Linked DNA regions of Homo sapiens: region 1 is linked to region 2. The links come from fine-mapping of genetic effects on gene expression. Tissue or cell type: thyroid. Region 2 holds a variant in brackets; the other region holds the start of a gene. All regions are shown on one strand. Distances are from middle to middle. Region 1 holds the start of KIAA1217. Region 2 has its middle 75 kb from the start of KIAA1217.

What was found. PIP is the estimated chance that this variant, and not a neighbour inherited with it, causes the effect.
Region 1: KIAA1217 starts here. The variant in region 2 is fine-mapped to the expression of KIAA1217 in thyroid (GTEx, PIP above 0.99).

What each region holds. Positions count from the first base shown.
Region 1 is chr10:24,200,607-24,215,775 of GRCh38, forward strand. It overlaps KIAA1217, which reads left to right and starts at 8,532. Exons shown (of 21, transcript NM_019590.5): 1 at 8,532-8,657. The coding sequence starts at 8,588. RefSeq lists enhancers at 1,636-2,401, 8,718-9,917, 9,291-9,350, 13,803-14,391 and a silencer at 8,951-9,000.
Region 2 is chr10:24,126,933-24,142,101 of GRCh38, forward strand. It overlaps a transcript of KIAA1217 not described here. Among named protein-coding and RNA genes, the nearest start is that of KIAA1217, 75 kb to the right of the region's middle. The variant G/A (reference allele first, on the strand shown) is at 7,169.

The sequences.
Region 1 (15,169 bases), 74 kb after region 2:
TCATAGGTGAACTGGGATGTTTGGTGACGCCACCTGTATCCCTTCGCTATATATTTCATATTCGAATTCTGTAAAGGAGAAGAGGGGAAATCTGACTGGATCTCTTTGTCCCTTGTCCAACCCGGGGAGCATCTGAGCTCTTCCAGCTGAGCCTACTGATTGCACCAGTCAAGCTTGGGGGTGATGAAAGGAAGCATCCCCAGCTGCCTTTCTCAGAAGGGGCCTGTGAGCAGAGTGAGCCTGGGAATATCATCAGGTCCTGTAGTCCATTTTCCACACCAGTTTGTATCAGTGCTGCTGCTGAACATGTTGGGTGAAGGTATGTGCAGATGAGAGGTGGCAGTAGGGGGCAAGCAGAAACAATTTTAAAAATCATTGCAGCAGCTGGGTGCCATGGCTCACACCTGTAATTCTGGCACTTTAGGGGGCTGAGGTGGGTAGATCACCTGAGGTCAGGCGTTCGAGACCAGTCTGGCCAACATGGTGAAACCCTGTCTCTACCAAAAATACAAAAATTAGCCAGACGTGGCGGCACGCACCTGTAATCCCAGCTACCACGGAGGATGAGGCAGGAGAATTGCTTGAACCCAGGAGGCGGAGGTTGCAGTGAGCCAAGTTCCCAAGACTGTGCTCCAGCTTGGGTGACAGAGCAAAACTCCATCTCAAAAAACAAAAAAATTCGTTGCACCTTTTTTACTTTTATGAACTCAAGCGTTACACAAATTAGGCTCCTAATATAGTGTTATGGAAACCCTGGCCCAACCAGTCATTAAATATTTTATCCCACTCAATATTGTCCAGTTCAGAGATTGTAAATTTTGCAAAAGGGAGTGTTTACAAAGCAAAACGATGTCATCTGGGAAATGAAGAATGTTAAGCTCTAGCAGCCCTGGGGAGAAACACAAAATGCACTTCGGCTTAGGGCAGAGAAGCTTAGCCATCAATACTTTGTAAATCCTGGAGGGCTTCCTCTACCTCCTGCATGCCAGCACCCCCTCTACCCACTTGGCTCCAGAAATTAGTCCTTCTGTATTAAAACTGTTTTTCCATCTGCAAGGAACAGAAGTCCCCACCCTGCCCTACCCCGCCTCTGCTTCCGCCCCACCTTCAATTCTGTGGACTGAGGTGGGGAGAGAAAAATAAAATCACTGTAAAAATACTTAACTTCTGAAGCACGTGACTGGCTTTCAAGAATTCTATAAACTCGAGGGTGAGGCACTTGAAGAAGTTGGAGGCATGGCTCAGGGCAAAGCAGGGGCTACAGTGAGCCCTTTGAGTCTCTGGACACCCCTCTCGAGCGCCCCCAACCTCCTGATCACCCCTGATCCTCCTATCCAGCACCCCATTCCCAATTCTTCCTGGTGTTCTGAGACCCCCGAGGGAGTGCAGGCTGCACGCAGGCAGGCGGCCCAGCCCCGGGTGCTGGGTGACCCCCTCAGCTCCAGGTGTGGCTGCAGGACTGTCAGCCTCCCGGGGGTGACATGGAAAGGTGAATGTATTTGCACTGCGCCTTTCATTCTGTAACATCTGTGTCTCTGTTTCTCTTAAAGCCTATGGCCATCACTCAACCGGAGGCTGAGAACTGATGAAAAAGTGGAACAAAAACAAAATAAAACTAGCTGCGTTGTTGAAACAAAGTCAATTTCAGTGTTTATTTGGCAGAGAAGCCAGTAGAGGTGATCAAAGTGATCAGGGCAATTCACTTGTTTCGCTGGCCCTGGGAGGGAAGGTGAGGAGCTCTGAATTCCAAAGGTAGGGGGAGAGGAGAGCAAAGCTCAGGGGAGAGAGCGGTCAGGAAACTCCCTGGGCACAGGCAATCCCTGCCAGGACTCCAAGACACCAGTCACAGGCTTCTCCTTCTCCTGCATCAGGGTGACCTGCAGGGCCCTGTTCTCGGAGCCTCCACCCTCCACCCTGGGCTGCACCACGGCCCCCAAGCCTTCATGAGCACCGTTGCCCAAAGGCTGTGCTCTGGTTGCACCCTTGCTCCCAAGCTCCCCTCACAGGCGCTTTCCCCTATCCTAGCAGCTCCACGTCTCCTCTGCTCTGAGGGTGGTTTCCATCTTTGGCCTCATCCTCCTGGAAGCCCTGCCCCCCAGGGAGGTCCCTGGCATCACAGTCTTAGCTTACAGACTAGAGGTCTCAGTGACTAGAGCAGGCGCCCAGCTGCAGGGAGACTTTGATAAATATCTATGGCCGAACTGCATGATGCCTTAGGGCTCTTACAGCAATGCCCCCCAAATAATACCAGACCCAATTCTATAGTTGAAAGAAGAGGAATTTTAGAAAATAGGTATACCGGGCCAGGGGCAGTGGCTCATGACAGTAATCTCAACACTTTGTGAGGCCAGGGCTGGAGGATTGTTTGAGCCCAGGAGTTCAAGACCAGCCTGAGCAACATAGTGAGACCTAATGTCTACAAAAAAATATAAAATTAGCCAGGCATGGTGGAGTGTGCCTGTAGTCCCAGCTACTTGGGAGGCTGAGGGTAGAGGATTGATTGAGCCCAAGAAGTTGAAGCAGTGAGCTGTGATCATACCACTGCAATCTAGCCTGGGTGGTGGAGTAAAAACTTGTCAAAAAAAAAAAAAAGAAAGAAGAAGAAGAGAGATACCTCCCCTTTTATTCTTCATTTCCATCTAGCAAAATAATAAAAATAATATTGATGATTGAGGGGTCGCCTTGGACAATTGCCTTGGACTTCAGTAGTGAAAAAAGAGGATAAAAGATCCTAAGGTATTCATCAAGTATAACAGAGCAAAGGCTGAACAGGACCCTGGAGACGAGAAAGATGGGAGAGATGAGAGCCACACGTTCGAGAATGCTCCAGGAGTCAGTTTGTTCAGCAGCAAAGTTGGGGGATGTTGGTGGGGGAAACAGGGAGAAGTGTACTCCATGATCCTAGTTTTGGCAACTTGATTGGTTCCCCTTCCTTCTTGCTCCCCCTACCCCCCAACCCCCACCTCCACAGGTCACTGCAGCTTTGAGAAATGGCAGAGGAGAAGCTCAAGGGCAGAAAATAAGCCAGGAGAGTCTCTTTCCCCCAAATACTCTATTGAAAGGGTTGATAATGAGGCACTGTGGGTAAAGCAAGGTAGCAACCCAGGTGCTTGTATCTGTAGAAGCTCTCATATTCTCGTGGATTCCACCCTGGCCCTTCAGGAACTCTGGGAAATATGCCATGGTTTTGCTCCCTCTGGGATAAAAGGGGTGAGCAGATACATGTTACACTTTTCACTTATAAGTTGCCACCTGGAATCCAGACTTTGTCTGCAGTGACCAGAGGGCAGAGCTGAGCGGGGCTTTCAAGACGGTATGCTGCACAGATGCCAGCTCTGGCCACAGTGCTGTGCACACGGGGTCTTTGCTGCCCAGCATCTATCTTCCAACTTAAAATAGATAAAAGAAACCATAATAAAAACCAACATCAATGGGTTCTCTTAAAAAGAAAGCAAATATGCTTAAAGTATTAACACATTGGATCTATGTGTAGTTTCACATCATATGACCACATGAGGAATTTGTGTGGAGTAGCAGGAGAGTTCCAAGACATTTCATAGGGAGATTTGAGTGTTGGTGGGTGGCGAGGGGCTCCTGGGCACCTCACTTATTGTCTGGCAGGATCTCCTTGGAGCCACTGGAATTTTAAGGACTTTAAGTAAGGGAAGATTGGTTACCCTCTGGAGAGAATGCTGGAGGTTACCTGGTGAAATTGTTGCTCTTAACGCAGAAGGGAAAATTCTGTTTTGATCTATGAGTCATATAGAAATGTATTATACTATGGAATCTGCGAAATTGTTTGTTAGTGGGGCTTGTAATACGGTCCGTGTGAGGCTCACACCTTTGCTCTAATTATTGTTTAAGATTAATTATTTTTTAATTATTGTTTCAGATTCTTTTATAGGGTCTTTGTTGGGAAACTCAAACAGTATCATTATGTTCCCCTCACATTTGGAAACCTAAGGCGCCCAGAGGGCTTATCTTGGGATCACACATAGGTGGCCATCTGTGCTGGTTTGCCAGGGACAGTCGTGGTGTCTTATTGTCCAGTTGTAATTATTAATAGTGTCTACTTTCCCTCTCACAAATGCTGGTTTATACTAAGTATAAGGTCACCCTAACCACCTGACACATTGCTGTCAAAACTAGGATTGGAGAGCCCACATTTCACATGCGCCAGATCATCCATTTAAGCAAATGTTATCCCAGTTGTTAAAAATCCTTTATTTCTGACTTACAGGGCCTCATACCATAGCAGCCTGTCTTTTAGAAACAGTTAATGTGGAACACATCAAACACGAGGCCTCTGGTTGAAACACTTTTGTTGACTTCTTTGTTTTTCACTTTGTTTTAATTGACTCTCACAGTTATGAATGCCTTTGAAAAGTACATTTTAAGGACTTCAGCAAGCATTAATTATTTCTTTTGTGTCCTGATGTCAAGTCATTTTCAACTATCTGGTTCTTAATAGGATTTAAAGTGAAAAAATATTAAATATGTATCAGGGCAATTCCACTTACTCTTGGTTCTTGCAATGATTTCTCTGTTGAAAAACTTACATAGGCCAGGCACAGTGGCTCACGCCTGTAATCCCAGCGTGATTACTTTGGGAAGCCAAGGTGGGCGAATTACCTGCGGTCAGGAGTTCGAGACCAGCCTGGCCAATGTGGTGAAACCCCGTCTCTACTAAAAATACAAAAAAAAAAAAAAAAAAAAAAAAAAGCCAGGCGTGGTGGCACATGCCTGTAATCCCAGCTACTCAGGATGCTGAAGCGGGACAATTGCTTGAACCCTCGAGGCAGAGGTTGCAGTGAGCCGAGATCGCGCCATTGCACTCCAGCCTGGGCGACAAGAGCAAAACTCCGTCTCAAAAAAAAGGAAAAAATGCCGGGCGCGGTGGCTCATGCTTGTAGTCCCAGCACTTTGGGAGCCCGAGGCAGGCAGATCACAAAGTCAGGAGATCGAGACCATTCTGACTAACACGGTGAAACCCCATCTCTACTAAAAATACAAAAAGTTAGCTGGGCGTGGTGGCATGTGCCTGTAGTCCCAGCTACTTGGGAGGCTGAGGCAGGAGAATCACCTGAACCCAGAAGGTGGAGGTTGCAGTGAGCCGAGATCATGCCACTGCACTCCAGCCTGGGTGACAGAGCAAGATGCTGTCTCAAAAAAAAAAAGGAAAGAAGGAAAAAAGGAAAAATTTACATGAAGGAAGTTGACATGCTTTCCACAACCCTATAATTGGCCTGCTGAGAAATCATATGCAATTGTTTACGATTTTTGTGATTAATTCTCTTTATGGTGAATGCCATTTACGTTGCGTTATCAACACCAATAATGGTCCAGTTCTGTAACGGGTTAGCTATGACTGCAAAATCACCATTTGTCTTTACAGCACTCTTTTATCTCGTCACTTGTCTTTCCTTTTAAATGACATTTGTTTTATGTGGTAGCTCATTTTGAGTCATGAATTGCAACATATGGAACCACTAACCAAGAAATAGTCTTGCACCTTTCCCTGTTAACAGAAACGGAGTTGAAAACTTAGCCTCCTGGTATTATTATTATTCTAGTTCTTTATATGACTGGAGGAAAATCAGATTTCAAGTTCTTCCCGCTTTCCTTATGCCTTTCACAGCAAATTTCAAAGTATAGCAGTAGGCAGATTGCAATGTAATAGCAATTTTTAAGCCCAGAAATTAAATTAAACCAGAAAGAAATACACCTACTTCTAGTTCAAATAGTGTTTCTTCCAGAAAGAAGAACATCTCCACAGTAACAGCAGTGACAATAAGAGTATTTTCATGAAGATCGGAGTTACCAGGTTTATATAGATTGCAGAATACAGCTACTGTTTTCCAGAGACACTGACAATCAGTGCTAAATTGTTAGGAAGGTCTCTGTGCTTTGGAGAAAGATATGGAATAGTCGGTGCAAGGGCAAATAGAGTGCCTTCTCAAATTGTTTTCAGTTCCTCTTCTTAAGGAGGAACAAAAGGCCAGTAAGTAATCCAATAGAAGCTTTTCCCTATAGAATGGTCAGAAAGTTTGATCATTCAAAAGAACATTATTTTACCATAAATACATGTCTAGGTTTCATGATCCTTAATGATTCATGTTAATTCTCTTCCCCCAATGCCTTTTTCTGTTGTGCATATCACAGAGTTTTGTTTCCTGGAATATCAGCAGAGAGGGCAGTGGGCTTGGCCCGTATGGGGGAGGGGAGGGTCCTAGCAGCTGGAAAGCAAGGTCGGCTGACCAAGGGGGTTCCTTGGGCTGCCTGGAAAATGGTAGTTCAGACCTGGTGGGAGACATTTCCCTATTTTTGTCCATCTAGGGGTCAACAGAGGCCTGAAAGACTGCTCTGACACCTTCCAAACAGCCCCCAGGAAATCTTAATCAGCATCTGCCAATGGATCTTTTCTGCCTGGGTTGAGCTAGCCAGGAGGGCCCTGGGGCAGGGTGCTGTTTGTGGCTGCCAACGGCTGTGGCAGCCCTCTGCTGCCTCCTTCATCCTGGGGTTTTTGCCTTTGTGCTACACCAAATGACAGGTAGGAGCTGTTAAGCACGGGCTCTCTGGACACCAGAGCAAGGGGATTGGGGTCACAACCAAAGGCTGCGGGACATCTGATTTGGGCTGCTGCATCTCCTGCTACAGTGTTTCTCTCTCTCTCTCTCACACACACACACACACACACACACACACACACATACTTTTCTCCCACCCTCCTCCCCACTCTTCCTAGCATTAATACTTTAAAGACAAATACACAACAGTATACAAGAATCAGGATGATCTGGACCTGAAAGGCTGAACACAGCAGGGCCCTCCTTCATGAACATTTTGCACCTAAGGAAATAATAAGGTTAAAACTAGATTCATCTGGCCTTTGCCCAGGGGCCACCAGGACAGAAACTGTGTAAGATTAGTTCCTCCTTAAAGCAAGATTGCCAGGTAATTCTGTTGCAAAGTCATAGAGACCTTAAGTTATCTGCCCTGCAAATCCCACTGCCTCTATTCAGGCTGCCGAGGCACTGCTTTAATTTTTTGAAAGATTCACCGCGTCTTCTTGGATTTCAAGAAAAATCCCGTTAAGAATTGAGGGGCTCTCTTCTTCCCCTCCTGACGTGAGTGTAACTCACTTCCTGGTATGTCTCCTTTCCTTTTGGCCTACATCCTTTGTCTGTTAGGTGCTTCCACATCCTTATGTCTTAAATGGCCAAAATACGTCACCCCCACTGCCAAAACACACAGGTCACTCGAGGTCACAATCTGGAACATAGGCTGGCCATTGTTCAGCACACATTCTTGATCTAAATCAATCTCAAACCTTGCTGGAATGCCCTGTAAACTGGGGCAAAGTATGGTCACCAGACTAACCATTGTCCTTTTTTACCCCTCCTGTGACGGGGCTACTACAGGTTACAAAATCGCGCTCTTCCTCCTAGCTACTGTGTTACTCTGAGATATCTGACATCGCAGAGCTAATGTTGCCTAAATTATTTTCCCATCCTCTTTTTTTTTTTTTTTTCGGACATCATGCCTCCTATTTTCACTCTCTGGGAACTCTGCCAGTTTTTCAAGGACTGGGTAAAGAACAAAATAAATATTTGTAGGTGGTTTAAAAGGAGAAGTATGTTGGTTGTAACTCTGCCTGTCCAAAGAAATGCATTTTCACTGTCTTTCAGATTTTTGGAGTCGTTAACTGGGAGAGCTTCAGAAGATTGACTTTACTAGTTTACCTTTCAGATTTGTGATTAAGGGCTGGGTGTGTGTGTGTGTGTGTGTGTGTGTGTAAGTGTGTTGGGGGAGGGAGGAGTCTGAGAAAGTGAGCAAGTACGTAGAAACTTTTTTTTAAAAAGTCCAGATTAAGTGATTGAAATCGACTGTGTGCAAATGACGCTATACCTCTTCATAGATGTTAATCGGGCCCTAAAAAGTTAGTGCCGGAAAGTGCTTACTTACAACACTCAGCATATACTCTTTCTTTCAAATTGTTTGGGATTTTTTTTTAAGGGAGTTCACTGAAATTTGGGAGGTTCAACAGGTTGCTGTTTTTTAATATGTGGATCACCCGATTTGGGAGGCTCACTCTGCCTCTGAGATTAAAGAGATGAGGGCACTGGCTCCCAGCGAAGGCTCTCGGCCTTAATCATGTGTGAAATGTTTTCCTTCCTCGGCTGCAGAGCCTCGGTGGTTTGCAGCAGTGGAACCAGGCAGGCCCAGTTGTGGGTAGGAGAGGCCGTCACCTGTTGAGGCCTCCCCCCCACACCCCCGCATCGCCCTGCCCTGGCAGAGCCCAGCCCCCAGTCCCCGGAGAGCGCGCCTGAGGACGGACGGACGGACGGACGGACAGACCTAGGGACGGAGGGCCAGGGGCAGGGGAGATCCAAGAGGCCCCGCGCTGGAATGCAGTTTTCTCGGGCGAGGGAGACTTTGCACCGGAGTGGAAAATAGTTTGGGGTGGGGTTTCGCACCGTCCCCTCCTCCCCAGCCCCGGGCCCCCTCCCAGGCGCTTTCTGGGAGCTTTTAGAACTGCGCTCTGAAGTTTCCAGAGAGCGAGGAGCTTTTGCGGCAGGCAGAGACAATGGAAGAAAATGAAAGCCAGAAATGTGAGCCGTGCCTTCCTTACTCAGCAGACAGAAGACAGATGCAGGGTAAGTAACAGACCCATTCAAAGATGGAGTTACAGGGACGCGTGCCCCTTGCCGCTTGCTGCTTTTTATAAACTGCAGCTCTGGGACCCGGCAAAGGAAAAAAAAAAAAAAGGCAATTTCTTGGGATGGTACATTTTCCAAACTGAGTAGAGCATAGAGAACTGTGATTTCTTAGGCTTGACTTTATCTCTGGCACGATTTTCTTAAGCAGCAAAAGAGGTGGTGGGGTGATGTCACATTTGTAGTGCAGTGAGCCATCAGCATGAGCTGTATCTCTAAGCAATGACAAATAAATCACTAAGCAGCTTTTAATCATTTCCCCCCGGGGCTCCAGCCACGGGAGAAAGGAGCTGTTTTTGTGAAACTGTCTCTAGGACCGCAGCTTCCATTCATTGGTTGGGGGATTCCATGTGGCAGATGCATGCTGGCTGCAAAGTTTGTGCAGAATTTTAGAGTTAAATCACAGAAACCAGGCATGTTTTATTTTACAGATCCGAGCAGCAGGGGAGGGCTTGAGCATCTGGGTGATAGATAGAACTCTGGATCTTCTTTTATGTTTTAATTCAAAACTTGGGAGTTGTTGGACAATTTTGGTAAATTTTCTCCAGGCAGTTTCCCTTTAATTGTGTTTATAATAGACTTGTCTTTTCCGTAGGGAATTTCCAGAAGCTTATGTTGTTCCAAAGAAATTTCGCACCGGGTTGGGTGGCCAGAGGAGGTCCCTGCTCTCTGGCATCTGATGCCTGTGATGCCAAGAGCTGATTCTGTGGGATCCTATAGGCAGCATGTTCATAAACCACACAGCCCTGGACCACCCGCCCCACCCTCCCTCAGGTTCATGCAGGGGCCAGTACACAACAAAAAGACGTGCGGGAGTGCAGTGCTGTGCGTGGGAGTAGGGATTATGCACAGGGGAAAAGGTGTGTGTTTTATGAAAATGTGAAAGGGAAGTAACACATGACTCATCCACGCTGAAAATGCAAAGCTAAGCCAGTCAGGAGAACTTACAATGACAAGAGATAGAAATCCCCCAGTGAAATGCAGAAAACTTGAAGTTTTGTAATGGCTGGAGAATCCCTGAGTCTGAACAGTCATCTGTCGAAGTGTCTGCCTTCGTGCTGCCAAAGCACAGCACTCTCCTTCAGGCTACCGGGGTCAGTGGCATCCAGTGGAAGATAAGGCTACCTCGTCCCCCTGACCCCCGCAACCCCCCACCCCCATTTTCTAGGACAGGATCCTACTTCAGGAATTCAACCTCTGGGCCTGTCCTGAAAGAGATGACTCAGATTCTAGAGGGGCCATTAGAAAGGGATCCATTTAAGAAATGACTTTCCAACAATCAGGGCAATTCAGAGGCTTCAGAGGCTAGGATGGTCAGCCTGAGACAGTGTGCTCCTTTGCTCACTAATTCATTCATTCAGTGAATATTGAGCATCTGTTATGTAGACGTCACTGTTTTAGCTGCCAGACATCCAGTGGTGAACAAAGCAGACTAAAAATACTTGCCTTCATTTAACTTCCAGTGTAAGGACCAAGTTTCAGGGGGTGGGGAGCTGGTAGAGACAGACAATGAACAAATAAATAAAATATATAGCATGTTAGATGGCACGGCTGCTGGATTTAGCAAATAAAAATACAGGAGGCCCAGCTAAATTTGAATTTCAGGTAAACGGTGAATTTTTTTTTTTTTAGTATAAGTATATCCCATGCCATATTTGGGATATACTTATGTTAAAAATACTTCTCCATTATTTATGTAAAGTGCACATTTAACTGAGCAGTCCTGTATCTTATCTGGCAACCCTATTTGATGGAAATAAGGTTACAGAGAAAAATAAAGCAGGAAAAGGAATAAGGAGTGAAACTGTAAATAGGATTATTAGAAAGAGCTTCGCTGAAGTGATATTTGAACAAAGACAGGAGAGGTAACAGCAGGGATGTAATGTTTTCAAAGAACAGCAAGAACATGGGAGAAGGATGGGAGGAAAAGAGATTGAGAGGTAATCCCAGGCCAGATCACCTAGGGCCCATGAAACCATTGTAAGGACTAGAGCTTTTATTTTGAAAGAGGTGGGAATCTCCTGGCAGGTGGGACTACTTTTTTTTTTTTTTTTTTTTTTTTTTTTTAGAGAGGGTCTCATTTGTCACCCAGACTGGAGTGCAGTGGTGTGATCATAGCTCACTGCAGCCTTGAACTCTTGGGCTCAAGCAATCCTCTGGCCTTAGCTTCCAAATAGCTGGGACTACTGGGACATGCCACCATGCATGGTTGTATTGTATTGTATTGTATTGTATTGTATTGTATTGTATTGTATTGTATTGTATTGTATTTTATTTTATTTTAGAGAAGGGGTCTTGCTATGTTGCCCAGGTGAGTTACAAAGGGATTTGTCTTTTTAAATGGGGTAATACTGGGTGCTGTATTGAGCACAATCCAAGTAGGGTTGAGGGAAGGGCAGGGAGGCCTTTAGGAAGCTTCTGCAGTCAAGGAGGCAAGAACCAGGGCTAGCTTGGACCAGGCGGTGATTAGCAGGCGGTGATAAGCCAGCAGATTCTAGGTGTATATTGAAGGTAATGCCCAAAGCATTTCCTGTAGCCTGGGCAGCATAGTGAGACCCCATCTCTAGAAAAAAAAATTTAGCTAGGCATAGTGCCCTGTAGTCCCAGCTACTTGGGAGGCTGAGGCAGGAGGATCACTTCAGCCAGGAGGTTGAGACTGCAGTTAGCCATGATTACACCACTGCACTCTAGCCTGGGTAACAGTGTAAGATTCTGAAAGAAAGAGAGAGAGAAAGACAGAGAGAAAGAGAAGGAAGGAAAAAGAAAAAAGAAAAAAAAAGAAGAGAGAGGAGGGGAGGAGAGGAGAGGAAAAAAGAAAAGACAAACAAGACAAGACAAAAGCAATTGCTAAAGGATTCAACTTGGGATGTAAGAGAAAAAGAGGAGTCAGAGACAACTTCCAAAATTTTGGTGTAAGCTGCTGGGAGAACGGAGTTGCCATTTGCCTAAGTTGGGGAGTATTTACGAAGAACAGATGAGAGGGTGTTTATGGTTTGAGGTTCTGAGGAGCAATCTTTTGATAGATTAGGATTGAGAAGTTTATCAGGTATCCAAGTGGAGATGTTGACTACAATTTGGATATTAATCACTAGAGCTGAAGGAAGACTGAGAACTGAGAGATCCCCTAAGATTGAATCTGTGTGCAGAAGAAAAAGTCCAAAGGATGCCCCCCGAGGCAGTCCAGCATCTAGAGGTCAGGGAGATTGGAAGGAAGGGCTGGAAAAAATAGCAAAAGTGGAATAAAAATCCAAATTAGATTTTTAAAATCCTGTTCAGTTCTGGGTGAATATGATGCTGTAGAGAAGCATGGCTTCATTTTTAGTTCTCCCGGTGAGCACGAGTGCCGCAAGGGAGAGCAACATCTCTGATGCTAACATCACCCATAACGTTCATTTCTATCATTGCATTCTCTCTTGTGTCTGCCTGTGTATCTGTTTTACCCAATGACAATGTGATATTCCACAGCAAGGACCATGTTTTATTTATTCACGTTTGCATTTCCAGCACCTAACAGAGCACTGGGCAACCTAACAGAGCACTCACTGGGCACTGTAGAAGGCACTCAATAATCATTTGTTGAATGAAAGGCTAATTTTACCACTTTGGGACTTTGAGTTTATTATCCTGCTATAGATAAGGATCCCTAGGGTGATCATGTAACTTACTGTCCAAATGAGATCCTTTTGAAAGTGAAAGGGAACACTCAAATAATTTTACTGGGACAACAGTTGTAACCCAGAGCTGTTTTGGCAAACTGGGGTATATGATCACCCTAAGAATAGCTCTAATCAATGAAGCTTCCATGGCTGAATAGCCCGGCTACCAGGTAAATAACAATGGGGAAGTGTAGCGCATAGTGTGCTTTGCGGAGTAGGCACTCAACAATTATTGGTGGAACATGAATCTAACTGTATCATATTCTCTTTGAAGCCCATGGGCTCTACATTGTGACCCTGGGGCATAGGCATTCCTTGGGATGACTCTGTCCACAGCAGTCCTGACGTGTGTGCTTTTGCTCTGGTTCCTAAGGTCTTGAAACCTCTATGCAAGTGAAGTGCTATTAGCCCACCTGCTTGCCTTCCCCACTGTCTGATTGGCAGCCTCCCATCGAGTGCAAGCCTGGGGAATCAGATATGCAGAAGCCTCCTCTAAAACAGCCCCCTCAGTCTCTGTACCCTTATCCCGTTTCATTCTTCAAAGCACTTACCGTTACATGACATTTAGAGTCTATATGATTTGTTTGTGGTTGGCCTATTTCAAATGTGGACTCCTCTATGAGGGCATTAAGTCTGACTTGATCTACTTCACACTGTATCTCCTAACTCCTTTCAGTGTGGGAGCAGGCAGTCAATAAATATTTGTATGAATGAATGAATGAATCAATCAGTGCTTGACACAGAATGCTTTTCTGGGAAGAGGAGCTCCTGTCTCTATTTTGTCTAAGATCTATACCAGAAATCCTCTTCATCACTGGTAAAATTTTAAGGTACTATAGAGGAATATAATGACCTGGTTTCAGCTGTAATTTCTGTGCTGATTTGTATATATATTATGATAGTAACAAGGGAGCTAACCCCATCACTTTGGGATGCTGAGGCAGGAGGATCACTTGAGGCCAGGAGTTCTAGACCACCCTGGGCAACATAGTGAGACCCCATCTCTACAAAAAAAAATGTTTTTAAAGTAGCCATGCATGGTGACTATGCACCTGTAGTCCCAGCCACTCCAGATTCTGAGGCAGGAGGATCACTTGAGCCCAGGAGTTTGAGGCTGCAGTGAGCCATGATTGCATGACTGCATTCCAACCTAGGTGACAGAGCAAGACCCTGTTTCTAAAAACAAACAAAGAAAAAAAACAAGGGAGCTTGAAAACTGAGGGATGCTGTAGGATTCTGCGGCCTGCTAACCGATTATGTGTATTAATCAGATAGGCTAATTGTTGTAACCACCCTCTAATCTTGGTGGCTTTGCATGATTAAGGTTAATTGTTCACTCAGACACAGCACAGTGTGATTTCTGTGGCCAGGTGGATTTCCTGGGTGGCCGATGAGGCTCCTCCTGCCTTGTCACTATGGCATCCCCCACGGCGTTGGAGGGTTCTGCTGGATCCTTTGTATTCAACTGGCCAAAGAGTAAAGAGAGAGAGAACGTGGAAGGTTATTTGGGAGGTCTAGGGGCCCCAACAAAAGGTGGCCCACATGGCTTCTGCCCACAATACATTGACTGGAATTAGTACAAGGACCCAGTGAGATGGAGATGGCTGGAAAATGTGGTCTTCCTCTGTGTGCAGCAGAAGAGCGTTCTGGTCGAACACATAGGGCTGTCTCTGCCACGGTACACCCAGAGAGGTTGTACAACCAGACCAAACAGCAACTCCCTATGATGCTCCCTATGACAAGAGAGCTTCTCAGCACAATTGAGAAGGAGACAGCTAACCAGAAGCCACTAGAAAGAAGTGAGGGATGCCTTCCCTAAGAGTCTGTGGCCTACCTAATCTTGACCCAGGAATAGGATCTCAGGGAAGCCATCAGCACTGTTGCTGGCTCTGGAGCAGGTGTGGAATGCCTGAGTGGTGCAAGGCCCCAAATCCCTTGCTGCAGGTCAGCTGACCCAGCCAGAGTAACCCGAGTTGTGGCAAAGAAGCTGGCCTTGGCAGCGCCTGCAGTTGCCTGCCTGCCGGACTTGCAGTGCGGCTTTCTCCTTGAGGAGGCCCCATCTTCCATGAGCCTCTGCGTGTTTGGTGTCTGCCCCAGCCCCTACTTTCTATGCTTTCTTTCCAGAATGCCAAATCCTAGCCTGGGAGCTCCTTGGATTCCTGAAGAGTGTCCCTTTAGCATTTCTGCCTGCCTTGTCCTCACTTCTCCAGGGAATGTTCCAGGGATTTTGCTCGGCTTTAAGCTCCTATGTTGCTCTTTGCCCTGCTTGAAGTGAGCTCCCAGGAGGAGTTGCCCTGGGCTCTGCAGAGGCTGGGAGGGGCAGGAAAGGGAAACAGGACTGCCTTTCAGCAAGCCCAAGCCTTGCCTTCATGCTACAGCTTCATTATTTTGTTTGACAAGGATTCCCAGAATAGCGAACAGCTAGACACACCCATATTTAAATGTTAACACCAAAGCGCATTCCAAACAAGAAATCGAATTGTATTTCTGTTTTGATGACTTGGATAATCCACACTTGAGCTTTTCTCTATTCATGTGGATAATGAGGAGTTGGCCAGGCTCAGATCTCTGACAACATGGCTGTGGAATTGTGACTAAATGTCCTCTGCCTGATCCCTCTCTAGTTTGTAATCATTCTTAGTTTTTCTCCACTGAAAAGACCACATTCTCCTTAAATGGCTGGAATGGCAGAGTTGTTGCTTCTCCCCCAGGTGTGGGGCTTGACGCTTCCAAGAGCTGAGCCTTGTCGAGGAAAAGGCTCAAGTGACAGATGTGCTGAAGTGCCTTTGTGTGGAA
Region 2 (15,169 bases):
TCTGTACCTTACACCTGGGTCTCTCTTTTTGTTTGCTTTCTCTCTTTCTCTTTTTGCAAGTCCAATAAAACACTTGAAAAAATGTCTTTTTGTCAGTTATTTCTAAGTGGTTATAGTAGGAAAGTTATCAGGTTCTTTAAGAAAAAGAAAAAGCAGAACAAGAAGTTCTACTTTGACCTTTTGACCTAAAACAAATCATATTCTCCATGCAAAACTTTCCTGCTAGCTTCTGTCCAAATGTAGACTGTCCAAAAACCAGCTTGAAAAGTATTAAACTAATGTAACCCTGAATGCCTTACAGTATAACCTTTGGGGATTTGTGTTCCTTTGGACTTTTAAAATAAATGCAGCCACAGCCTGGTGTGTTGAGAAAAGATAGGGTGGGGTTGGGGAGGGTTTATATCCTACCTTGAAAAAATTTTCAGGGAGTATATTGCAGAGAAACAGAGTATTTTCTGAAATCGTGCAAATGTCTTTTGCTTTTCCTTATTGAGAGACTAGAAGAGACTTTTTAAAAGTTATAATAAAAGTCCAAAGCCCTTTCTATCCCTGGAATCCTATGATTTTTCTACTGCCTTGAGACATGTTCCTGACAAATCCTTTTACAGCCGGTGTACAGCTTTGTAATCAAATTCTGAGTATCAAAGTAGTCCAAGATTTTCACAATGCACTCCAGTTTTTCTTTCTGCTACTCACCATAGGACCCCAGCAGCTTTACAGATATGATGGGGACTCTATTCTCTGCTGTTAATGCTTCTCAGATCTCATTGTCCACATAATTTTTATGACATGTCAAAGAGTACATTAGCAAACAAAATAATTAGTTGATTAAAAAGAATGTAAGTTATCGAATATTGTATAACATGACATATTTCACAATACCCACTGTTGGAAACTTTTATTACTTCCTTTGAACATCCTGTAATTTTGAAATGTTTTGCCCTAAAATTCTCTTTGGAAGCAACATGTTAGTAATAAGTCAGCAATAAGACACAATTGGAATAAAAACAAAGAATTCACACACATACAAAAAGAACAATATTGCAAATATTCTTCTCATACTCAATACCCAAAGTTATTTCTGAAGCCTCACCAAATTATTTTAGATTAAGTATCTACAACAAATTATTTTTTAAAATCCATCCTTTGCTGAATTTTATTCTGTGTTTGGATTGAGGCGGAGTCTGTTGTTAGCTGCATGATGAGAGCGGAGACGCTGAATCTTTTTATTTTCTTAATTAAGAATTACCATCTCAGGCCCTGGTCAGTGGTTTACAATGGCAATAATCTCTTCCAAAACAGTTGTTAGTCTGGATCCTAAGGGATTTGCCAGAACATTAACCTCAATTCGACCCCTCATGGTTGCAGGAGGAGGATGCAAGGGTCAATAATCATTTTTAGAAAATTATCAAGCCTGGGTTGCACCCTAGATTATGTAACTTGCTTTAAAAATAATGATAATGTGTTTGTCATTTTAAATAACTGGGATCAGCAAAGCTAATGAAAATGTTTAAATCCTTATCAGTTGGAATGAATAGGGCTGGCTCCAGAAAGTGCTGACTTCAACATTTTTGCGCTGCTTTTGTTGATCCTGTCTGCTGATGCACACGACCTATTGATGTGCAGCTTCGCATGCCATGGGGACTCATTCATCCATGTTAGAAGTGAAAGGGGCTTCCGGGCCTCTACATGTGCTGTGGCACATTCCTCTGGTTCTCTAACAAAGCTTTTAATTGACGTCTGTGACTAATGAGCATGAAGTCCCAGGAGAAATGGAGCACAGTCTTCTACCACCCATTAAGACGAGCTGCAAGTTCATAGTTTATCAAGCTTGAACTGGGAGCAGGCAGGGCCAAAGACTTGAGATAAATAAGAATGAATAGTTTCATTTTCTACTTTCATAAACTGGCATTAATAATTCTTAGCTAAAGTACATTGCATTTTTAGTGTTATTACCTAAGCTCTCGTAGCCAAGGCCCTCAATGGCCCTGTTAAAGGCTGCATACCTCTTTTCAAGAGAATCAGAATTAACCCTACTTCAGCTAAAGTTTAGTCGGAGTGCATTTCCCTAACAAAGAAATATTTTCCCTCTTTGTATAGGGTAGTAATCCTTTCTCACCTGAAGTCATATGGGATGAAGTAAATGCTGGAAGTGGGCCATATTGAGCTAGGCAGAAAGGTACTAACCTCCTACTATGTACAGAAAATGCTGATGCAGATAGTTCTACCCGAAGGTTTTTGTTATCTTTGTCTTTTAATTTATACTTTCAATTATGTGCCTTACTGCAGTGTAATAGAGTCATTATGTGGATTAGAGGAGAGCCAGGATGAAAAACTTATAGTCATTACCTGTTATTTATTGTATCTACTCAAGGGCATCAGAGAAATAACATCATTAGAATTAGTAAATTGCTAAAATCAGGGGTAGGAGTTATACTTACTCCCTAAGATCTTAGCATTAATGTTTGAAAGGACACTTGTAGGTCTCATTTGGTCATTGGTATATTATAGACTTCATACTTCTAAGTGGCATAAGTGAGTATAAATATATATTCAATAAATAATTCAAATGTCTTTAAAGTATATAATCATTAATTTTTAACTCTAGAACAGTTATACTTCATAATCAATAGGACTCCTGCCACTCTCATGATTAATCTTGATTTTAAACAGCCTACCATATGACTCTGCTACTGTATGACACCTCCCTACCATATGACTCTGTTATCTCTTGTCCTATATCTCTGTATCTGATCATTTCAACTAATCTATTTCAGTTACTTTATAATTGCCTCTTACCCATTCCTAGAAACTTGATGTGAATTCCCTTTCCTCCTGTCCAGTGGACCATCCACTTCTCAGTTTTTCACAGAGTTCTTTTTTTCTTTATTCTTTTTATGCCATTCCATTGACTTATTATTATTTTGATTAAGATTCATGATCTTAGGCCTCATGTGTCTCTCATGATCAAGGGCCAGATTCATGATCATAGGCTGCATGTGTCTCTGCCCACATCCCCTGTCCCGCATAACCTTTGACTTCCTGTACCCCCTTCCTCCTTTCCTAATAAGACCTTCATCCTTAGTATATGCATATTCTTCAGAAACTTGTTCACCATTTGCTTCTGCCATCTCTCACAGAAAAACCTTTTTACTCACATCCTTTCCTCCTTCAGTGTACAAGTTATAACTCAACCTTTCAATGAAAACTTCCTAGATTGGGCTATTGGGTTATTATTATTATTATTAATTTAGAGACAGAGTTTCACTCTGTCTCCCAGGCTGGAGCGCAATGGCGCAATCATAGTTCACTGCAACCTCAAGCTCCTGGGCTACTGGGTTATTTGAAGTGCTACTAGCTTCAAATGTATTATATATAACTCAAGCATCACGATTTCCTATGTAAAAACATGTGTGATTGGCATGCATTGGGCATGCCATGTTTTATTATTTTCCTGGAACCAGATTATAGGCTATTTTAAGGCAGTTATGAAGTTTCATGTCCTGTAGCATCTTTTTGTGTGCATCAATGAATCCTTACTTTGCATAATCTGTATCAAAGCAGTTAATGATGATGGTAGTATCCAACTCCATATGTAAAATGAACTAGCAAATGTATGCCTGGAATATAGAGTTGATAGAGTACTATGGAGTTCCTGCATTCTTAATTGAAAAAATGTCAAGAAATAAATATCCAGGAACTATCCCAAACAGATGTATTATTCAGCTGCTCATAAAAATCAGAATAATGCCGATTGGAATTACCTTTTCATGCACCTCATGACTCCCATATAGTAAGTTCTCAATAACTATCAAATTTACTGTGATTGGAATATGTGTTCAGTACCATATAATTCGTCACCATCATTAACTTTTCCAGCAACTTCTTTATAAAATCTCTGGCTATCTTATGGTTACCTCTAGATTTCAAAGGCCAATTGGTAGACATGACTTTAAACTGACGCCTTTTAATCTATGGGCACAAGCCTCTAACTTTCCTTGGTATACTTAAAAGATAAAAATTTAAAGTTTGTAAAGATTGGTGAGATAGTGATTACAGTTCTTCCTCCAGGGGGAATAAAAATACATATCTTTAGATTACTACATAAATGATTTAGTTAAAGAATTATTACAGCTCAGCATTACTGAATATTGAAACATACTTGTTGAAGATATGAAATCACTTTCCTTCTATTTTATTAAAAATAGCATTAACATACTGAGATCCAAGGTGGATTTGAAGACTATTTTAAACTCTTCAGACCTAGGATTTTACATTCATCCATAATAGCTCTGCTGTTCTTCGATTACGTGGTGTTTCTTTCGAGGTATTTTTAACCTGGGAACACTGAAGCAAAGATGTTCAAATTCAACCTTGGAGCTTCATCTCTTTCACCAACAACATTTACCCATCCTGTGTTATTTAAAGGCCAAATGGAACCGTTATTTTGAAAATCTGAAAAGAATGTCAGAATGAACACAATATGGAGAAAACATTTTCACAAAAATAGTGATTCCAAGTCTTGTAATTTAATATGCATGGTTGAATGAACTTATCTTTCTCCTACTCCACAAATACAGCCTACCATATCCTGAACTGCAGCCCTTTGGAAAAGAGACAAGTCTGTAAGTTAGCGTCCCATAATTATGCCCGCTGTACATCTTTATATCCCATAACAATTTTCTAATTAAAAATGAATTATTTGCCTACAGGCCCGAGAAAATGATAAAAAGAAGGAAATAATTGTTCTAGGTTTCTTTGAACTAAAAATGAAATCATTTAATCCAAAAAGAATGATGAAATGCATTTTAGTGGGGGCATGGAAACTATCATAGAAAGGAATAGATTGTGTACCTGGAAGCTGAGGAAATAAACTTTTGGCATGTTCTCTGGGGAGTTAATAAAAAGTTCCTCGAAGAATTTCCTTAGCTTGATTTTAGAAGTGTATCATTAGAGTCTAGCCCTCTGTGTTAGTAGACATAATCACCATAAACAATCTCCACGTTTCAGTGACTTCTCACTATAAAAGTGTGGTTATTACACACAGCATAGTTCAATGATGGTCCGATGAATACAGCATGAGGTTCTGCTCCATGCACTCATTCAGGGACCCAAGCTACTTATAACATATGGCTTTGCTATTTTGAGGGCCCCCACCTTCTCTGCCTGCAGTCCACCCATGGTAGAAAATCACGAAGGACTGCCTGGGAGGTCTTCTGGGTCCAGACTTGACAGTGATGTACCTCACTTCTGCCTTCATCCCATTGGCTGGAACTCAGTCACACAGTCCCACCTAACTGCAAGGGAGGCTGAAAAATGTAACCCAGCTGGCTGAAAGACGAAAAGAAAATAGGATTTGATTAACACAGAGCAGTCTGTCACATCATCAATAATTTTGAGTTGGAGTTAATAAGGTGTGTGAAAAAATAGCCCTGTGGTTGGTCCTGAATGCCAGTCGCTGTAAGAAAATACAAGACCAAGTGTGTCCATTTCAGAGAGCTATAGCTACATATTGCCTATGAGAGAACATGCTCAATTTTAGAGGCTACGAGGAATATAAGATGAATCGGACATTGTCTCTGCCCTCCGGCAGGACCCAGTCTTCTAAAGGAGCAGTTTCTCTGTAAACTGTTTTCTAGCTGTGCACCGGGATGTTAAATTGAAAATTTCTACTGAGGCTCCCAGTTCTAATAGATATGAAATTCCAAAGTGAGGTACCAGACCAAGGTGCCAATTTCCAGCGGAATATCAAGAATGGGTTCTATACATGAAACATTTGTCAGCATAAAGAGGATATATGGCCCCCAAGAGTGAAGGTTAAGAGAGGATTTCGTGAGGATAATTTCTATTTTCAAAAAGACACCGGATGAGGCTGGGGGGCTGTCTGCCGCCTCACCTAAATGCTAAGAAGACTGACTTCAACAGTACCATTTTGAGAACTTGACACATACCTCCTGGAGCTGGAAGAGGGTAGATGTGGATTGATGACTCAAACATGAGAAATCTGGAGGAAGTTACACCCTAACTGGCTAGTTATTCAGATGGCAAGAGCAAAGGAAAGTTGTTGCTGGTTGAAATCAGCCAGCAGGAGCTTGTTTCTTAGAAGAATGAGGATGCATCTAATATGGCCACTGAGAGAAAAAAAAAAAAATGGAACCTCAGGAGAGAAAACCTTTAAGTGGAGCCTAGATCCCTAGGGGCTGAGAAAGAAGCAACCAGCTGAATTCAGACTGCTTGCTTAACAAGAATGAAAAGAGTAGGAGAATCTCTGAGGAACCCGCACAAAGTAGTCTTAGAGAAAGGATCAGTGTTAAATATTGGTTAAGCTGTCATGATTCTATTAGTCAAAAAAGATCTTGGCTAGGCACGGTGTCTCATGCTATAATCTCAGCATTTTGGGAGGCTGAGACGGGTGGATCATTTGAGGTCAAGAGTTCGAGACCAACTTGGACAACATGGTGAAACCCTGTCTCTATTAAAAATACAAAAATTAGCCAAGCAGAGTTGAGTGCACCTGTAATCCCATCTACTGGGGAGGGTGAGGCAGAAGAATCACTTGAGCCCAGGAGGCAGAGGTTGCAGTGAGCCAAGACTGCACTATTACACTCCAGCCTGGGCGACAGAGCGAGACTGTGTCTCAAAAAAAAAAAAAAAAATGTCTTGCCTATTCCTCTTATCTCTCTTCTTTACTTCAACCCTGGGGATGGAAGCTGATCAAAACAGCAACTAGTGAGTGAAGGAGAATGGACATAGACAGAAAGAGACAGCCAAACATATTCTTTATATTGAAGACACCCATTTGCCTGTGGGCAGCCATGGCTGTAAAATGATGAAATGTTAGCTTTCAGTGATGATTCAGGTGCTAATGAATATTGGGCTGGACATCCATCCTAATTTCTGAAATCAGACTGTGTTTTGTAACCTACTGTGAAAATAGAACTTTTTCTTAACTAGGAGTGGTCAGAAAATAGTAGTTTTCATCAGAGGCAGGAGAAAGAGCTAACCAACCCCTTGGATCAGGCTTAGAGGAACAATGACAGGCAAAAGCAACATTCTTTTATGACTCTTGCTGACACAGCTGATTTGTACAATATGATGTTTGCCTTTGAATTCTGGGAAAGTGCTCCAGGAGAAGTACAAATAAAGTACTCTGGGAGGTGAAATAGAC[G/A]TCATTTGCTTCTAGCTAGAGTACAAGGGTGTTTAAGGAAGGGCTTCATGGAGATGAAGGTGTATGCACCAGACCTTAAAGATAAAGGGATTTAGATGTGCAGAGATTTGGGATGGGCTAGTGGAGGAGAGGTGGCTGATGGTGCATTGTTAAGGGCATTTTAGCAGAGCAAACATAAAAAGGTAAGGAGACAGAAAAACATAGCAGATGCAGGTAGGAGAGCAATTAGTTCCATTTGGCTGAAGCCAAGCATGGGGCAATAATTAAAATTAAGGTAGAAAGTGTTGGCTTCCAGCTTGGGCAAAAGCATAAGATATGCTTGAAACCTCAGCAGGTTGTCTGCACAAAAGGCAAGGTATCTGGGACTAGGTAATAAGGGCAAAAGGAGAACCTTGTAGTTGCGCTGACCTTCACAGTAGGTAGTCAGATGTCTAGTTTACAGTATCCATAGTGTCCATGGAGGTATTGGGTATTAATTAATTTATTTTTTAGAGGCAAAATCTCACTCTGTTCTCCAAGCTGGAGTGCAGTAGCATGATCAGAGCTCACTGCAGCCTCGAACCCCTGGGCTCAAGCGATCCTCCTATCTTAGCCTCCCAAGTAGCTGGGACTATAGGCACAAGCCACCACACCTAGCTAATCTTTTTTATATATTTTGTAGAGACAGGGTCTCACTGTGTTGCCCAAGCTGATCTCGAACTCCTAACCTCAACCCATCCTCTGGCTTCAGCTTCCCAAAGTTCTGGGATTACAGGTGTGAGCTACCACGCCCAGCTGAGGCATTAATTTTTATCTAATTGATATCCAAGCAGGCTGATGTGATAGGTTAGGTGTGAAAACAAGGAAGTGTAAGCAGTGGGATGATAAATTCAGTAAGTTGTGCTTGAAGGTAGTACCCTCAGCTTGGAGTAAGTTTGGGAGTCAAATTTCTATAGATAGGAGAAGTTCCTTTTCTGACAGGCAGCTCCTACATTCTGTGACCTCCAACAAGTAATTTGACTTCCCTGAACTCCTGTTTCTTCATCTGTAAGGTGGTAATAATAACATATAATAAAACAATCCACACACTCCCTTCTCTTTCCTCCAAGAGGAGAAGGAGGATGGAGATTCCAAGCAGCGGGCTGCCACACCAGTGATGGTCCCCGTCTCAGCAAGGGATCTGGAGGAAAAATCAGGAAGATGAGACAGATGTTCTGTTTCATGAACAGAATGAGTGGAAGTTGGGGGAAGACTTTAAGTCAGTGAGTTTTAGCTCCCGTAAATACCAAGCTTACATCAAGAAGCACCCACCCTCTGCCAGTTCCGTCTCTGCTTGCCTCCGCTGGGATTGGCGTGGGGACTGGGCGGGGCTGAGTTTGCAGGTTCCCAGTCCTCTGTGTCTAAAGTGCTCAGGGAGGCAGAAATAAAATGGATAATGGGGAGGAGACATGCCAGCCAAAAGGGCTTGAATGTTATTCCGGTGTGATCACAGGTTTTTAAGGAGGACAGAGCTAGAGGAGGGGAGAGAGCTGACACCTGACATATCGGTCCATGCAGCGTGGAGAGGAGATGGCAAGGTGAGCAAGGGGTGGGACATTCAAGTTAGATGAAACAGCACAGACCTAGGCCTGAAGGCAGAAAGGATTGGCAAGACGCAGGAGACAGGGACTGTAGTCCCAGCTCTGCTGCGAAGCTTTCTGAGTTGTGGTTTCTCCGTGTATCAAATAGGTTCTAAGTGACACCTCACTTATTTAGAGGCTGCAATTTGAAATCTCATCTATCCAAAATTCAGGCAGACATATAAGTAAGTAAAAACTGTCTCTGGGCATTCTGTATAGGTATTACAACTTTCATGCTGAAAACAGGAGACAGAACTTTTCTCCAGCTTCTTCTTCAATAGCTACATACCTAGTTTGGAGACAATTTTAACATTTGACATTCTAATTACTCTTCCCAGAGAAGTGAAGATTTTGCAAAGAAAGAGGGGTATTAGAGTATGAGATTCAGGCATGAGAGAAGGGCCCACTCTAAGGAGGAGATAAAAGGAAGCAAAGGAATTATTTTCAAAATAGCAATATGGATCCATTCGGCATCGGTACAAAGAATATCCACATCTCTGTATGCTCTGGAGGTCTATGCATATTTGTGCTATAGTTTCCGGCATCTTCAAACATAATGAGTAATTGATGCTTGCAAAGATACTTCTGAGTCATCAAAAAATGGATAAATTATATCCAGAAGTCTCGATTTCTAAAGAGGAAGGGGAGGGGAGTGGAATTTTTTAAATTCTAGTTGAGATTATTAGATTTTTTAAACTAGGGATTTTTGAGAGGATAAATTTTCATTAAGTGAACATTTATTTATTCAGTGCTTATCTTTTATAAGTTATTCTTACTATGATAATGGGACTATAAAATATGAAGGCTACTTTAAAAGAGAGAGAGAGAGAGAGATACACCGGAACGCGGTCAAATGACTAGTCATCTTCGAGGGTAGAAACTTACACTGATGATCCCACCTTTGCTGAAAATATTTTTATGATTTGTATTGACTGTCTACATAACCTTTTTTGTGAGTTTATAGTCATGCAAAGCAACAGCCTCCTGACTTTAGAATCTCACCTGGATATTTACAAGGAAAACCTCCATCTCCAATAACAACATATTTTGAGTCTGGTTCTTCGAGGAAACATTGACTGAGCATTTAACTAGCCCTTTGCAGTAAGAGGGAGGTTCTGCGTGGTCCTTGAAATTCACTCAGAGTGTAGCTGAATTGTCCACGTTATTCACAAGGCTTGTTCTTTTTAGCTGTTTACAAAAGCATTAAGCCTACCCTAAAGGTCAAGATGTTGCTAACATTGAGAAGATTTTTGTTTAATATACAATATACTCTGGCATCAGGGTCCAAAGTAGAGAATCAAAGGTGGCTTGAAAGATGACGGTGTCATTAAAATAAGGTAACTCTTTTGAAGGGATAGCACTCATTTAATACGTAAATTCTGACATATTCATGTAAAAACATGCATCATGTGGAATCACATTTGAGAGGACATTGGCAACTATTAATCCCTGTACAAAAGTAAAAGAATTGTTGACATCATCATCATATTGGAGACTACCTACATGTCAAAAGGCTGCAGAAAGGCAGGTTTGCCTTCACTGCTGTTGGCAAGACCCATAGTTCCCCCTGCCCCAGGCAGCCACGTGTGGTGATGACTGAATCCTGCAGAGACCCAATGACTGCAAGTAGGCATGCTCTCACCTGCTCCAAGCCAAATGCCAGTTTTGCAGCAGGGCATCCCTAGGCCCCCAGGAGATTGCTGTCTTCTTGGTGATCAGAGCAGAGATTGACACTTTGCAGGCATTTTCTGCTGCTGCACCAACACTCTTTGGAAGTTCTCACATTTGAGCAAAACTGCTATTCTTGAGATGTCTAGCACCACTAATGTGGGCCAAGAATCAAAACGTTTGCCCAGACTTTGTTTTAAATTGTTGACCTGAGTTCAATTTTTAAGCAAGGAGTTTTTAAAATAGAGTAGAATCATATTATTACATAAAATGTGACATGCCATTTGTAACTCTGCTAGGGTATACCAAGCCTGAACTTGAAAACAATAAAGACACTGCGTTTTATTTGGAAGGTTTTATTATCAAAAATATCCTATTCATTCTAAAAAGTATGAAGTGCTAATGCTTAGGTATCTGTTTATTCCCTTATTAAGCTGATGTCATGACATCTTAGTAAAAACACTTCTTTTCTATGCATGCTCTTAAAAAACAAGGGTTTAGGTGGACATGTGAGTTCATATTTAATTCTTCCAAATGCACAAAAGAATTTTGTTGGGATATTTTTTGTTGCAAAGGATGGTTGTTTTTCTTTAACTTATTTTAAAATATAAAAATAATGTATTTTTAATGTAGATTTGAAAAATGCAGAAAAATAGAAATTAAGAAAAATGAAAGATAAACACTATGAACGTATAGTAGCATAAGGTTCTTTCCAACCTTAGTATTATGCGTAGTTTTCTTCTGGACTTTTGGTTTACAGTATTTGGTTGAATTTGGGAGGTTTTTGCTTTTTGGTTTTGTTTTAGAGGCAGGGTCTTTCTCTGTCACTCAGGCTGGAGTGCCATGGTGCAGTCATGGCTAACTGCAACCTCGAACTGCCAGGCTCAAGCGATCCCCCTTATCTCAGCCTCCCAAGTAACTGGGACTACAGGTGCACACCACCACACCTGGGTGGTTTATGTTTTAGAGATGGAGTCTGACTGTGTTTCCCAGGCTGGTCTTGAACTCCTGGATTCAGCAATCCTCCTGTTTCAGCCTCCCAGAGTGCTGTGATTACAGGCATGAGCCACTGAGCTGGCCTGTATATATTTTTTCACATACTTGCAATTATTATGTATATGATTAGACTTTTTTCATTAGATTATGTGTTTTTATGTTATTGTAAGCTATTTGTAGACACAGTTTTATTGATGATACAGTTTTCTATAAAATGGATATTATATAATCGACTTAGTTAATTTCCTGTGGTTTTAAATTTAGATTTCTTCCATTCATTAACCAAAAAAAAAAAAACCACTCCAATGAACATTTATATATCACCACTTCCCCCTATCTGGAATTAATTTTTTGACATACAGTCTCAGAAATGTTACTGATCAAAATTGTAATTACATTCTTAAGAATCTTCACACACATCCTGAACCCAGTGTCTAAAATGTTTTTTGTTTTGCTTTTTAACCATTTTACAGTTTTATATCAAAGACTTCAGTGTCGTGAGATTTTATCACTTTTTAAAGCTCATGTGACATTATGGTGTAGCTTCAATGTGCTTTTTAAAATGTTGAATTTTTGTGTCTAATTTTTTAATAAGGAAAGAAATATATGTATGTCCTTTACATAGGCTCTGAATGTTTTCTTAAAATTGATGTGATCACTGTATTAATAATAGTAAACCTTTGTCATATTTGGGTGTACATTTTTCCCAAAAGATTTTGGCTTTTTCATTTTATTTTAGTTTTCTGTATAATTATTTGTATCTTTTAAAGAGCAAAATATATTGATTGCTGTTATCACTTTTAAGCTTAGGAATTCCTTTAGAGATTTAATATTTACTTCTACTTCCCTAGTTTATTGAATGTTCCCATTTTTAATATATATATTTGGAATTTGGTTTAGGTATATGCTATAACATATAATTATACATACTCTAACTAGCTAAATAATTATTCCAAAACAATTTACTTTTGTCCATATTGGTGTGTGGTACTTTTTTTGAGTATATATTGATTTCTCATATATTGTAGATTCTGTTTTGAAATTATCTATGTTGTCTCGATCATCTATATGTCTTTCTGTATCAGTGCCAAAATATTCTAATTATTATACCTTTCTATTATATCTCAATATTTGTTAGAGTTTGCCTGCTTCATTCTTACTCTTTTCAATCATGTTTTCAATTGATCATCTTTGAGTAAGGGCACAAGTTTGATGGTCTACCCAGTCTAATATACTGGGCCTTCCACGAATTTACTATGTGATATTGAACAACTTACATAATTTATTTTGGCCTTAATTTTCCTATCTGTGAAATGGAGATGGTCATAATAATATCCATTTTATAGGTTTATTATGAAGATCATCTGATTTAATATATACAGTAGTCCCCACTTATCCATGGGGAATACATTCTAAGACCCCCAGTGAATGCCTGAAACTACAGATAGTACCAAGTCCTATATATACTATGTTTTTTCCTATACTATGTTTTTATACCTATGATAAAGTTTAATTTTTAAATTTGGCACAGTAAGTGATTGATAACAATAACTAGTAGTAAAGTCAAGCAAATATAACAATATACTGTTCACAATTTTATGAATAGATTTGTTCTTCCCATAGATCTTGGCAACCTCAGCATACTTTTTTTTTTTCCCCCTTATCAAATTGAGAACTTTCGCCTTTTCACCTAAAGAAATCACTTTATGGCAATGGGCCGGGCACAGTGGCTCACACCTGTAATCCCAGCACTTTGGGAGGCCGAGGCGGGTGGATCACGAGGTCAGGAGATGGATACCATCCTGGCTAACACAGTGAAACCCCGTCTCTACTAAAAATACAAAAAAATTAGCTGGGCAAGGTGGCAGGCGCCTGTAGTCCCAGCTACTCAGGAGGCTGAGGCAGGAGAATGGCATGAACCCGGGAGGCGGAGGTTGCAGTGAGCCGAAATCGTGCCACTGTACTCCAGCCTGGGCAACAGAGGAAGACTCTGTCTCAAAAAAAAAAAAAAAAAGAAATCACTTTATGGCTTCTTTTTGGCATATCCAAATTGTCAGCAACACTTTTCCTGCCCTTTAGGGCCAGTATGAAGTAAAATAAGCTTGAACCCAAGCACTATGGTACCTATACATGACAGTCGATCTGATAACCCAGACAGCTCCTAAGTGACTGTGGGTGGGTAACTTAGGGTAGATCCTCTGGACAAAGGGATGATTCTTGTCCTGGGTGGAATGAAGCAGGACTGTATGAGATTTCATCACACCACTCAGAATGGCATGCACTTTAAAACTTAGGAATCGTTTATTTCTAGAATTTTCCATTTAATATTTTTGAACTGAGGTTAATTGAAACATCGGAAAGCAAAATTGCAGATAAGGTGGGGCTGCTGTATATAAATTATCTAAAGGCCGTGCTTGACATACCTTTAGTGGTTGCGAACGTTACCTCTTATTAGAATTTGCAAATAGTGATCCTATTGTCTCCTTTGCAATCATTATATCTCACTTCTGTGTCATGTCTTATTGCATTGTCAACAGTGTCTAAAACAATATTAAATAATAATTATGGTGCAAGTCCTGTTCTGGATAAGAGTAAAGGCACCGTGTCTCTCCCATTGAATGCAACTGAAAAGCCTGGATAGAATGCATGAAACAACTCTTTGAAGACTGAAAAGTCTTCTGGGGTAGAAGACTACAATTCAAACTACCATTGAAATGGCAATGAGTTTACTTTCTTTCCTCCAGCATCTCCCAGACTCAGCTCAAAAGGGTACTGGTGCCAATAGAGACACCCTAAGGAGAATCCCCTTATTTCTGGCTCAAGGAGCAAAAAGGAGTCTCTTAATGCTCAGAGAAAGAATAAACCCCCCCCCCCCATTTCTCTCTTCTTTCCTTTTCTCTGTTCTTTGAAGAAGGAGAACGTTCCCCTCCAATCCTTTGATCAAAGGAACTGTGATTCTAAGAACCTGGGGCAAGTGCCTGATGGTTTCATTTTCTTTCTCTCTCTCCATTTTCCTACCACTTGGACCCAGACACAGTGTAATCACAAGAAATATGCCGTAGCAGCAGAATAAATAAAGTCTCAGATTCTTTGAAAGCCTCAGGGAACGAAAAAGGACTATGTTGCAGAGATATTGCAGAAAAGGAGGAGCTTAGGAAGGCAATCACTTAAAGTTGTGTATGAACTCCTGGGCCCACCCCTAAATTGTGTGTGCTTTGTTCTGACCCTAAGCAGCATGCATCAGTCCTTGAGAACTGAACTATGAGAATGGCCACTGGACGAAGATCACACTGGACACAGGAAGGTGCAAACACAGGACAGACGCAAACAGCACTCCAAAGGCTTTGAAATCATAAACAATTAAATTCACATTGGAATCACAACCCGTAGATAAGGCTGGTCAGAACCAGCAGCCTGAACCCAACCAGGTCATATGTGAACACCTGCTGGCACCTTGATCTTGGACTTCCCAACCTCCAGAACTGTGAGACATAAATTTCTATTGTTTTTTTTTAGTGTTTTTTATGTGTTTTGTGTTCTAAATTTTATTTTTCAGCCTCAATATATGACATTTTAAATTTTTGTTGTTTATAAGCTACCCAGTCTATGGAATTTGGTTATAGCAGCCCAAACAGGTAAAGACACCAATATATCCAAAATATTAGTTCATCATATAATCAATATTTTTAAATGTTAATGAGATTTTTTTGTTTTTTTTTTCTTTCTATTAAGTCTTCAA